2 linked regions of the Homo sapiens genome follow. The protein of the gene in region 2 purifies or fractionates together with the protein of the main gene of each other region. This does not show direct contact. Each region holds a gene or a part of one and is shown on either strand. Other genes may lie near its edges.

Evidence for each region.
Region 1: the proteins of VPS54 (region 2) and EIPR1 purify together in Homo sapiens (affinity purification with mass spectrometry; 4 studies listed by BioGRID and IntAct, with this or other methods). This does not show direct contact.

Annotation. Positions count from the first base shown.
Region 1 is NC_000002.12:3,371,319-3,374,818, forward strand, and holds part of EIPR1 (EARP and GARP complex-interacting protein 1), read right to left. Parts: intron 1-3,500. UniProt on the Homo sapiens protein: Acts as a component of endosomal retrieval machinery that is involved in protein transport from early endosomes to either recycling endosomes or the trans-Golgi network.
Region 2 is NC_000002.12:63,963,929-63,967,428, forward strand, and holds part of VPS54 (vacuolar protein sorting-associated protein 54), read right to left. Parts: intron 2,039-3,500; coding exon 1,907-2,038; intron 1-1,906. UniProt on the Homo sapiens protein: Acts as a component of the GARP complex that is involved in retrograde transport from early and late endosomes to the trans-Golgi network (TGN).

The DNA of each region.
Region 1 (3,500 bases), about 61 Mb from region 2:
ACTGCATCAACTAACAAGCAAAATAACCAGCTAACAGCATGACAGGATCAAATTCACACATAATATTAACCTTAAATGTAAATGCACTAAATGCTCCAATTAAAAGACACAGACTGGCAAATTGGATAAAGAGTCAAGACCCATCAGTGTGCTGTATTCAGGAAGCCCATCTCACGTGCAGAGACACACATAGGCTCAAAATAAAAGGATGGAGGAAGATCTACCAAGCAAATGGAAAACAAAAAAAGGCAGGGGTTGCAATCCTAGTCTCTGATAAAACACACTTTAAACCAACAAAGATCAAAAGAGACAAAGAAGCCCATTACTTAAGGGTAAAGGGATCAATTCAACAACAAGAGCTAACTATCCTAAATATATATGCACCCAATACAGGAGCACCCAGATTCATAAAGTAAGTCCTGAGTGACCTACAAAGAGACTTAGACTCCCACACAATAATAATGGGAGACTTTAACACCCCACTGTCAACATTAGACAGATCAACGACACAGAAAGTTAAAAAGGATACCCAGGAATTGAACTCAGCTCTGCACCAAGCGGACCTAATAGATATCTACAGAACTCCCCACCCCAAATCAACAGAATATACATTTTTTTCAGCACCACGCCACACCTATTCCAAAATTGACCACATAGTTGGAAGTAAAGCTCTCCTCAGCAAATGTAAAAGAACAGAAATTATAACAAACTATCTCTCAGACAACAGTGCAATCAAACTAGAACTCAGGATTAAGAAACTCATTCAAAACCGCTCAACTACATGGAAACTGAACAACCTGCTCCTGAATGACTACTGGGTACATAATGAAATGAAGGCAGAAATAAAGATGTTCTTTGAAACCAATGAGAACAAAGACACAACATACCAGAATCTCTGGGACACATTCAAAGCAGTGTGTAGAGGGAAATTTATAGCACTAAATGCCCACAAGAGAAAGCAGGAAAGATCCAAAATTGACACCTAACATCACAATTAAAAGAACTAGAAAAGCAAGAGCAAACACATTCAAAAGCTAGCAGAAGGCAAGAAATAACTAAAATCAGAGCAGAACTGAAGGAAATAGAGACACAAAAAACCCTTCAAAAAATTAATGAATCCAGGAGCTGGTTTTTTGAAAGGATCAACAAAATTGATAGACCGCTAGCAAGACTAATAAAGAAAAAAAGAGAAGAATCAAATAGACGCAATAAAAAATGACGAAGGGGATATCACCACCAATCCCACAGAAATACAAACTACCATCAGAGAATACTACCAACACCTCTACGCAAATAAACTAGAAAATCTAGAAGAAATGGATAAATTCCTCAACACATACACTCTCCCAAGACTAAACCAGGAAGAAGTTGAATCTCTGAATAGACCAATAATAGGATCTGAAATTGTGGCAATAATCAATAGCTTACCAACCAAAAAGAGTCCAGGACCAGATGGATTCACAGCCGAATTCTACCAGAGGTATAAGGAGGAACTGGTACCATTCCTTCTGAAACTATTCCAATCAATAGAAAAAGAGGGAATCCTCCCTAACTCATTTTATTAGGCCAGCATCATCCTGATACCAAAGCCGGGCAGAGACACAACCAAAAAAGAGAATTTTAGACCAATATCCTTGATGAACATTGATGCAAAAATCCTCAATAAAATACTGGCAAACTGAATCCAGCAGCACATCAAAAAGCTTATCCACCATGATCAAGCGGGCTTCATCCCTGGGATACAAGGCTGGTTCAATCTACGCAAATCAATAAATGTAATCCAGCATATAAACAGAACCAAAGACAAAAACCATATGATTATCTCAATAGATGCAGAAAAGGCCTTTGACAAAATTCAACAACGCTTCATGCTAAAAACTCTCAATAAATTAGGTATTGATGGGAAGTATCTCAAAATAATAAGAGCTATCTATGACAAACCCACAGCCAATATCATACTGAATGGGCAAAAACTGGAAGCATTCCCTTTGAAAACTGGCACAAGACAGGGATGCCCTCTCTCACCACTCCTATTCAACATAGTGTTGGAAGTTCTGGCCAGGGCAATTAGGCAGAAGGAAATAAAGGCTATTCGATTAGGAAAAGAGGAAGTCAAATTGTCCCTGTTTGCAGACGACATGATTGTATATCTAGAAAACCCCATTGTCTCAGCCCAAAATCTCCTTAAGCTGATAAGCAACTTCAGCAAAGTCTCAGGATACAAAATCAATGTACAAAAATCACAAGCATTCTTATACACCAATAACAGACAAACAGAGAGCCAAATCATAAGTGAACTCCCATTCACAATTGCTTCAAAGAGAATAAAATACCTAGGAATCCAACTTGCAAGGCACATGAAGGACCTCTTCAAGGAGAACTACAAACCACTGCTCAATGAAATAGAAGAGAATACAAACAAATGGAAGAACATTCCATGCTCATGGGTAGGAAGAATCAATATCGTGAAAATGGCCATACTGCCCAAGGTAATTTATAGATTCAATGCCATCCCCATCAAGCTACCAATGACTTTCTTCACAGAATTAGAAAAAACTACTTTAAAGTTCATATGGAACCAAAAAAGAGCCCTCATCGCCAAGTCAATCCTAAGCCAAAAGAACAAAGCTGGAGGCATCACGCTACCTGACTTCAAACTATACTACAAGGCTACAGTAACCAAAACAGCATGTTACTGGTACCAAAACAGAGATACAGATCAATGGAACAGAACAGAGCCCTCAGAAATAATGCCGCATATCTACAACTATCTGATCTTTGACAAACCTGACAAAAACAAGCAATGGGGAAAGGATTCCCTATTTAATAAATGGTGCTGGGAAAACTGGCTAGCCATATGTAGAAAGCTGAAACTGGATCCCTTCCTTACACCTTATACAAAAATTAATTCAAGATGGAATAAAGACTTAAACGTTAGACCTAAAACCATAAGAACCCTAGAAGAAAACCTAGGCATTACCATTCAGGACATAGGCATGGGCAAGGACTTCATGTCTAAAACACCAAAAGCAATGCCAACAAAAGCCAAAATTGACAAATGGGATCTCATTAAACTAAAGAGCTTCTGTACAGCAAAAGAAACTACCAACAGAGTGAACAGGCAACCTACAAAATGGGAGAAAATTTTCACAACCTGCTCATCTGACAAAGGGCTAATATCCAGAATCTACAATGAACTCAAACAAATTTACAAGAAAAAAACAAAAAACCCCATCAAAAAGTGGGCAAAGGATATGAGCAGACACTTCTCAAAAGAAGACATTTATGCAGCCAAAAGACACATGAAAAAATGCTCATCATCACTGGCCATCAGAGAAATGCAAATCAAAACCACAATGAGATACCATCTCACACCAGTTAGAATGGCAATCATTAAAAAGTCAGGAAACAACAGGTGCTGGAGAGGATGTGGAGAAATAGGAACACTTTTACACTGTTGGTGGGACTGTAAACTAGTTCAACCATTGTGGAAGTCAGTG
Region 2 (3,500 bases):
TCAACTACATCATTAAGCACACTGTATTTTTTTCAGACTTTCTTAATGAAGTAAGCAGTGCAGTGATTTGCATTCCAGTGCAAACTCCTTATTTTACTGCAGACCAGCACTTTGCACAGTACAATAGAATACAAATTTCTTTAATTCTAGTTATAGCATCCTTGCTCTTAAAAGCGAACATGATAAACCAGCTGTTGTCCATCATAAAAGGAGTTTCAAAGTGCTCTCTTGGAATCCTGTCTTCTATTCCTATTCTAAGAACAGAGCAGAACGAAAAGGAGTCAGAATGTAAATATAGCAAATCTGATTCTGCAATTTACAAATAAAAAAAATTTCCATTATTTTAGTCACTTTAAACATTCAGCATAAGAAAAGCATTTGAGTCTCAAAGATTTTTTGAATTTTCAATAATCCATTGATTTACTCTTTTCAAGGCATAACATTTTTATAGTTTACTTCCTATTAAAATGCTATAAAGGAAATAATTTTTAAATTATCTGTATTAAAAGTACCTGTATACATTGATGAGACTTTTACTGGCTTTTGCTGTTTTTCTCTTTTTAAGGTATTATTCTCTCAGGGCATATACTTAGAATATGAAAGCCTGTGTCATGAGCAAGCCTGTGTCTCTAAACCCATGGTTTTCGTCAGATTTATCAATTTGTTCTTATGCATGGAAAAACCTTTTTATAGGTGACAATGTTGCCAAAGGAAAAAGCTCATTTTCGTTTTCAATTGTGAGAAAAGGAATACTCATGATTCCTTCCCCACATTTCTTCTTCTCTCCTCCCCAAGCTAGTCTTTTCTTCAGTTCCTGATGAGGACTGAACCTGATATTATTGATGTCTTCCTGAGACAAGCTTTCAGATTGCCAGGGGATATCACTAAAGTAAAACAAAATCACTACTTCTCATTTTAAGAACTACCTTCAGTTTTAGACGAGCTCTAAACTGAATGCTAAGAAAGAACAGAGATCAAATGTCTTTAGAAGACTCTTGATAAGTAAATTATATTTAAAGATCTAAATATTAAATGACTTTCAAGGTGCTGACTTCTGGACTATGACATTGTAAAACGTAAAGAACTGCTGACTAGTAACATGTAAAAGACTAGGCTTTGCAAAGCTACAAAAACAATAGGAATATTGTATTCTTTAAGATATTTTTGTTTCAAAATAATCATCCCTAGGTGAAAATGAAAAACAGTACCTCGGAAAATATTGGTTTTCTGTGCTTTAAATCATTCTTATAAAATTAGCCAATGTGGGGCTGGGCATGGTGGCTCACATCCGTAATCTCAGCACTTTGGGAGGCCAAGGTGGGCGGATCATGAGGTCAGGAGTTCGAGACCAGCCTGGCCAACATGGTGAAACCCCATCTCTACCAAAAATACAAAAAATTAGCCAAGCATGGTGGCACGCACCTGTAGTCCCAGCTACTTGGGAGGATGAGGAAGGAGAATTGCTTGAACCCAGGAGGTGGAGGTTGCAGTGAGTGGAGATCGTGCCACTGCACTCCAGCCTGGGCAACAGAGCGAGACTCCGTCTCAAAAAAATAAAAATAAAAATAAATAAAATTAGCCAGTATGTAAATAAAATATCTGGGACAAATGCAAAGCAATTTATTGTGTTAGCTAATATAGCCTTTCAATTAAAATTCCATCAACTGCTCTTTCAGGTAAGAAGCACTCAAATAGTAAGTTTTTCCTTGTTCATCTGCACAACTTGTGTTCCATTGAACCAAAATGCTGTTAGTTTATCAGTTAAGATTGGGAGGCTTATAGTTATCAGTAAGAACAAAAATGAATTTAAAAGTACAGCTTACTAAATAACTAAATCTGAACCCAAGCAAACAGTACCGCTTAACTAGAATAGTTTCCTACATGGAAAAAGTCAAAAAGAAATTACCTTTTCTTGAAGCAACTTTGAGGAAGCTGCATCACGATTTCCTTTTCCACCAGCAGTATTAAAATGAGACCATGGTAAAACTGAATTAAAAGTTAAGGAATCATCCAAGGCAAAATCTGGTTTCATAAAAATCTATTAAAAAAATGCATTTCCCTCAATTAGATAAGTATTTTCTTTATACCCATTATCTCTTCTAACATCATGATCATTAAACAAAATTAACGTGGATCTTGAGTATGAATAGCAAAAGCAAGTGATAACAGTTGAGTTCTTTACACAAATATCTATAAGAAAAATGTGTAAATTTCTCACCAAGCTTAAAATACTCATAAAAGATACAAAATGTTTTTTGCCTTTACCAATGGAGATGGTCATTCTATTACTACATGATCATACTCACTCATGCAGTCCTACAGGTACATACCAGAGGCAGATATAATACTCATCCTAAAATTTCCACATTATTTCCCACTGATAGTTTTTTAAAATGCCAAATATCAATTTCTCTAACCTATATTTCTATTTTCTCCTGCTCAAAATTGTTTTAAAATTAGTTTAGATTAAGCATACAATAAATATTAAAACCAAAACAAATTCAATTTTATGAATAGACTACTCTTCCCTTACATATCACGACCAGCTAAGCAATAAGGCCTACCCGTTATATTTTGTAAATATACCTTGAATCTCTGCTTTCCTGTATCTCCACAGCATTCAGTAGTTCAGCTCTTCAATAGCTATTTACTGATATCCTTCCCTAATCTATCCCCTATACTACTGTTAGAGATACTCCTCTACAATGTCAAGTATAACTGTATTAACTTCCCTGTTTAAAACTCTCAATAGATTCCCATGACCCACAGACCAAACTATTTAGAATGGCATCCAAAACCCTTCATTGTTTTTCTGGACCCACTTACCTCTTTGTATCTTGTCACTCCCACTATTTACCCATTACACTCTAGCAATATTCAATTCTCTTCCATACTCTTATTCTTTTTACAATGAGTGTATTAATACATAAAGTATGCATATCTTTACATACATACTTCTGGCCTAGAACGCCTTTTCTTGTACATCTTCCTGAAGAACATGACCCAATCAAAAGGGCAAATGTGTCGTTGTGCATGACATAATGACTCCCATCTCTGAACACAAATATATCATGCATACTTAATTATTTACCTCATACTTTATAGAAATTATTTATTTAGTATGCATATCTCCCTCTGGAGACCATATGTTCTTGCAGGGTTAAATTTATAGCTTATTTTTGTACCTCTAACACCTAGCATAGGGCCTAAAACATGGTTTAATCAATTTATGTATTTATTTATATGCTATATTTTATTTACTGATTTATTTTACCTATATACAAAAATTAGAATGAATATGGTAGGAAAAAAATCTAACTAGAGACATGAGTAAATTTTCTAATCCCTGCTTTGGTATTATAACTAAAAGTATTGATTAATTCAATAAATATTTACTGACTACTTCTGATGCTAGGCACTGAGGGAGAAACAAAGATAATTTATTAAAGAGACCCCAATCTCATGAAGCTTCAATCCAAGGGATGTGATAAAATATTATA